Linked DNA regions of Homo sapiens: region 2 is linked to region 1. Evidence: fine-mapped expression QTL. A gene starts in region 1. The other region holds a variant in brackets. All regions are shown on one strand. Distances are between the middles of the regions. Region 1 holds the start of BUB3 (BUB3 mitotic checkpoint protein). Region 2 overlaps C10orf88 (chromosome 10 open reading frame 88).

What was found. PIP is the estimated chance that this variant, and not a neighbour inherited with it, causes the effect. A credible set is the group of variants that fine-mapping cannot tell apart.
Region 2: its variant is the best candidate, but not a certain one, in a credible set for the expression of BUB3 in esophagus mucosa (GTEx, PIP 0.70).

The regions. Positions count from the first base shown.
Region 1 is chr10:123,152,733-123,155,651 of GRCh38, forward strand. BUB3 (BUB3 mitotic checkpoint protein) reads left to right here and starts at 1,670. Exons shown (of 8, transcript NM_004725.4): 1 at 1,670-1,753; 2 at 2,186-2,380. The coding sequence starts at 2,186. RefSeq lists enhancers at 1,341-1,635, 1,355-1,524, 1,361-1,520, 2,251-2,320 and a cis regulatory region at 1,440.
Region 2 is chr10:122,931,638-122,934,556 of GRCh38, forward strand. It overlaps C10orf88 (chromosome 10 open reading frame 88), which reads right to left. Exons shown (of 6, transcript NM_024942.4): 6 at 1-1,024. The coding sequence ends at 790. Among named protein-coding and RNA genes, the nearest start is that of C10orf88, 21 kb to the right of the region's middle. The variant C/T (reference allele first, on the strand shown) is at 1,529.

The sequences.
Region 1 (2,919 bases):
TAAAACTCAAATCGAGTCGGGCTGCAACTGCATGCCCAGAGGGACCTGAATCATACACACACTGGATAATGAAATACACTTAGATTTTATTAGTGGGTAATTCATGCTCAGAATCTTGGAACAATAATATAATTAAATAAACAACTGGGAGAAGGAACCAGATAAGTCAGGAGGTAAAATTATTTAGCTAAAGTTAGAATGGAAGTAAGGAACTGCATTTCAAAATTTTGAATTCAGCCATTAACTTGTGGAAAGAGAAGAGATAGAGAACCAAGTACCAGGACTGGCAAGGAAGGAGGGCAAGAGTCTTTCAGCAGTAATGTCATCAATGCAGTAGGCAGAAAGGTTGTTGTTGTATGTGTGTTTCTTGTGTCAGGAATCACAGAAAGAGGTGCATCCAATTCAGGGTGTGTGAATGCATAAAGATCATCAACACTTTCTCATTAATGTCCCTTAAAAGTTAATCACTTTAACCCCACAATTTTCTCTCACTTCACACAAAATCAAATAAAACGATATATATTTTTCTTTTACAAAAGGCAGTGAAAAAGCGGTTAAAGCATGGATTAAATTGAAATTTTTCAGTGAGCCTTTGACATTCAAGAATAACTCAGTCACTTCATTCTACTGATTAAGTATTGCTTTTCTTTCATGGAGATAAAATAATTTCTCATACTCAAGCAACCTTCTTGATCCTCATTTCTAGAGGATTCTAGAAAACAGCAAATGGAGCACACTGAGCCTGCAACTTTGGGGAGTGGCAGGACAGAGTGGAAGGGGAGAGGCTTGTAGCTGTCGTTTCAGGACCCTTCAAAAAAGAGCTCTAAAAGAAGTGGTGGGAGCTTTAACACATTGCAGAGTACTGTCTCCCAGGCTGTTCACCCTTCTGAAGGGGGGTTCCTGAAGGGCAAAGGCTGGTCTGATTACATGCATCTTTCCAGAGCCTCTCACCAGGCCTGGCGCCAGTGGAGGCTCAATAAATGTTTGTGGAAAGATGGGGTGGAGAGATAAAGCATAATATAAATATGAATGGGTTTCTTCAGCAGAACTTGAGACAATGGGAAATGGGAGACCCTGGTTTATAGGTGGAAATTCCCAAGAAATGAGAAAAAAAAAATCAAGGCAAAATAATGCAGTTGATAGAGCAAATATTTCCTCCTCTACATCAACTTTTGGTTAGCTTCACGGGCGTGTGCACGCCCAGGGATAGGGAGACAACTTTAGGACTATATAAGTATTGCCCAAAATGGGATTCTTGTGTTTCAGAGACTAACTTCAAGGGGAGGGCGCCATGGACAGAGCTGTAAAGATCTTTCCCGCTTTCTATGAAGAGGGCGGGCAGAGCGTCAGCCCCTAGAAAACTACATTTCCCAGAATGCCATACGCAGGCGGGAGAGGGCATGAACAGAGCCTTGGCGCGATGCTCCTTGGGAGGTGTAGTTTCCACGCGTCCAGCTCGAACGCTGATGCCCCAGCGCGGTGGTAAAATGAGCCCACGTGATCGGAAAAGCAGCGGTTTCCCTTTGAGCCGGAACAGGATGACTGGGTTGACCGATGCTGGGCAGCTGAGCGGACCAATCGGCCCCCTAGACTGAGACGTTGGCGTTTGAAATCAGCCAATGGCAGGTCTACACTGGAGCTTCCTCTCCGCCTCCTTCGCCTAGCCTGCGAGTGTTCTGAGGGAAGCAAGGAGGCGGCGGCGGCCGCAGCGAGTGGCGAGTAGTGGAAACGTTGCTTCTGAGGGGAGCCCAAGGTAGGGAGGCGAGGCGACGGTGTGCGGGAGCGGGCTCTCCAGGGACTTCCCGGGTCCGCAACTGGCAGGGCCGTTCGATTCGCAGGGGATCCCGTTTCGTTTCTGTTGTTTTCCCTTTATTTTTAGGAGTGCCCGGGGCGACGGGACCCCGGGAGAGGGGAAAGGGAACAGTCTGGGGTCCGGGCATCGCTGTGGGCCGGGCTGGGTTTAGGGGGACGGCGGTGCGGGCTGGGCCGGTTTGGGCGCGGCGGGGGCCGGATGATGGGGCGAGTCCGGACCTTGGCGGGCGAGTGCTCGGCGCAGGCGCAAGCGCAGAGTCTCCTCGCGGTCGTCCTCTCGGCCCCTCCCTCTGGGGGGACCCCCAGTGCCAGGCTGTCAGTGCGCAGCCCCAGCCCGCGGGACCCCTGGGGACTCTGGGCGCCTGTTCTGCAGATGACCGGTTCTAACGAGTTCAAGCTGAACCAGCCACCCGAGGATGGCATCTCCTCCGTGAAGTTCAGCCCCAACACCTCCCAGTTCCTGCTTGTCTCCTCCTGGGACACGTCCGTGCGTCTCTACGATGTGCCGGCCAACTCCATGCGGCTCAAGTACCAGCACACCGGCGCCGTCCTGGACTGCGCCTTCTACGTAGGTGCCCTCCCGCCCTGCTCCTGCCCTCTTACTGTGTTAACGATTCTCCACGTGAGGAGCGTTTCTTTTCCAGTGTTGGGTAGAGGCGTCTGTCGGTGGGGTTATTTGGACAGTTCTTTAGCTTTTCAGGAGCATCTGCCTTGAACCTGTACCGTTTTGGGTTGGAGACATGCAGACATTGGAAACTCCGTCTCCCCTTTTCTGTTACACGCTTGTGGAGTAACTCTAAACTTTCTGAAAATACGATCATTATATTTGCAACAATACTGTTTTGGCTGCCGTATTGAAAGGAACCGTTTAGGGGAAATGTATGTTTACCCTCAGCTAGCGTGTTGGCTAGGATAAAGCAGCCCTCCTTTAATTTCCAGACACAGGAGTTTAGTGACCACTTGCTTTTTTATGCTGTTTTTTGGTTTGTTTACCATGAATAGTTGAGCCCAGTGCATATCCCGAGCATAAACTGAACACTTGCTTGTAGAAATAAGAATGTTGAAACCCTTTCAAAAGTTCTAGTTTTTAAACGGTTCAAAACTATT
Region 2 (2,919 bases), 220 kb before region 1:
TTCCATGGAGAGCCTCATTATTTCATACAATAAACATGCCAGAAAAGGATTCTGGGGAAAAAACCTGTATCAGCTCAAAAGGAGAGGTTTTCTTAAACTGTCTGGGGTTACTGAGGTCAAACAAGATGACTGCATCTGTTTTACAGGAAAAATCAAATCCAAAGTACTAATCGTAACAAGGACTAGGCTAGTTCTGATGTTTACTTTCCTACCTACAGCTACTCTGTAATGAAACAAATAATATTAACAACCCCAGAGTGAACTAAGTTTACACATGCCAAATATCACATCTTATTCATTATCTCACACAAGCAATACAAAATGTAAACTGGTAATCTGAAGTAAAGGCTCCAAGTCTTAAGTATCCAATTTTCCAAGATAATTAGAAAAAGAAAAAAATCAAATACTCTTAAGCATTATTTTTCATACTTCTAAGACTATAAGATCTTTGTATAAATAAAAATTATACTTAAACACATATACAATACAAACTAATGAACTGTATTAGAAATCCTCAAGCATTTTAAACTCTTAACACAAATATACATACATTTCTGTAAGACTGAAAAATATCGTGAGCAAAAATAATTTGACTGTATCATATTAACTCAGTGTACAGTACTGGATTTAAAATAACAAGTGTAGTAAAAACGAAAACTGAGGTCACTTTGTGTAAGACAATGATCCCTCAAAGGACATTAAATACTTGCTTTTTATAAATATTTTTGGGTTTTGGCTTTGTAATAAATATGTAATAAATATCTGCAGTACACTGTTTATGTTGAGAGCTTATCTTTCTCCATTTGAAAGTCTTTCTCCAGAGTCATAATGTCTTAGAGGTATCCCAGTGGGCGGGGAGTTAGGATTTTGCAGCAAATCCAGTAACAAAGCAATCTTATCATCAATGTGCTCCTGGAGTTCATGTATTCGCTGATCAATGTAATCCATAAGTTTCTTTTCCATCAGTTCCATATTTTTAGAAAGAATCTTTTCCAAGTAGGAGCAAATAGATTGCTCTTCCATTCTAAAAATACATTTTTAAAAATGTGTAAATTTTCCCTAATAACAAAAACAACCAAGCTTATAAAACAAGCAGCCAACATATATTGCTGAGATTTGTCTCCACAACTGTGCTCTGTCTTCTTACAATGCATTTCTAGGTCCTAATACACATCCACAATAGGCAACCACAGCCCTAAATGCCCAACACATTATTAATTCTTTTTTAGTATACAATTGAACAGAAATGTAAAAGTGAAAAGGAACCCTCAAAGAGCAAGTCTTTAGAAAGGGTCTTTTTGATTTTGAGGTCCAAATCAAAACTGATCTGGCCCAATTTTCTTCTAAAGTCAACATGCATATTTTCAAATACTTCCCCAACCAACTCTATAAAGTTTTTCTTCCTTCATACAAACAACCTTACTAAACTACTAGAAGGTTCTTTTTTTTAACCTGGTATAAAAACACTTCAGAATTTAACTAGAATGGGCAAACTAACAAAATAAATAAAAAGCACACCAATTTCTAA[C/T]GTTCACAATGAACATTAGAACAGTAAGTCTCAGGGCAGGCACGGTGGCTCACGCCTGTAATCCCAGCACTTTGGGAGGCTGAGGTGAGTGGATCACTTGAGGTCAGGAGTTCGAGACCAGCCTGGCCAACATGGTGAAACTCTTGTCTCTTACTAAAAGTACAAAAATTAGCTGGGTATGGTGGTGGGCGCCTGTAGTCCCAGCTACCTGGGAGGATTGCTTGAACCCGGGAGACAGAGGCTGCAGTGAGCTGAGATTGCGCAACTGCACTCCAGCCTGGGTGATAAGACTCCGTCTCAAAACAAGAACAGTAACTCTCAGAATGTGGTCCACAGAACCTTGGGGTCTCCATGATTCTTTTGGGAATTCACTGAGGTCAGAAGTATGTTTATACTAAGATGTTATTCGACTTTCTCATCCTCATACTCATGAATTTTCCAGAGGCTACAAAATCTATGTTATTGCCCTGATGACTAACAGAATCTGTAGTTGTGTATTCTTCTTTCCTAAAATTTCAAGGTAGTAGAGATTTAGTGTATAAATATATGCTTTTTCAGAGATTAATCCACTCTGTTCTCAGTATTCCTACTGTGCTCTTACTAGCTATATTTCACTATACATGCTATAATTCAATATACATGATAATGCAGCCAAAAGCTATTATGTATAGATTCATGTACATTTAAAATAATACTATTCTCAATAAAATTTTAAAAGAAAATCTGGCTTTTTTTCATAAAGACTGTTATTTATGTTAATATACAGTGGGTTTATTGTTATTTTTAAACAAATATTTTTATGTAGCCTACATAAGTTTATTGGAGTCCTCAATTAAGAGTGTAAAGACCAAAAGTCTGAGAGCCACTACTCTAGAATACACCAAAGACAGTTTTTAAGAAACTCTGTATTTTGAAATAATTATGGATTCACAGGAAGTTGCAAAGATATTAGTTTCTCAGTGCCCTTTATCCAATCCTCCCAATGGTCACATCTTATCTACCTATAATCCAATATCAAAACCAGGAAATTGATATTAATATGATGTGTGTGTATAGTTCTATGCCATTTTATCATATGTACACATATTTATTTAAACACCACCATAATCAAAAGGCAGAACCATTCTTTAACTGCAATGATCTCCTCCCTGCTACCCCTCTATTGTCATACCTACTCCCCTAAAGTCTTCTTTCCCTAATACCTGGTAACCATCAATATGTTGTTCATCTCTACAGTTTTATTATTTTGAAAATATTATAAAGTGAGATCATACAGTATGTGACCTTTTGAGATTCTCTTTTGTCACTCAGCAAAATGCCTTTGAGAGATGTCCAAGTTGTTTTTTACTGCTCATCAGCACTGCGTGATATGGAGGTACCATAGTTTAACC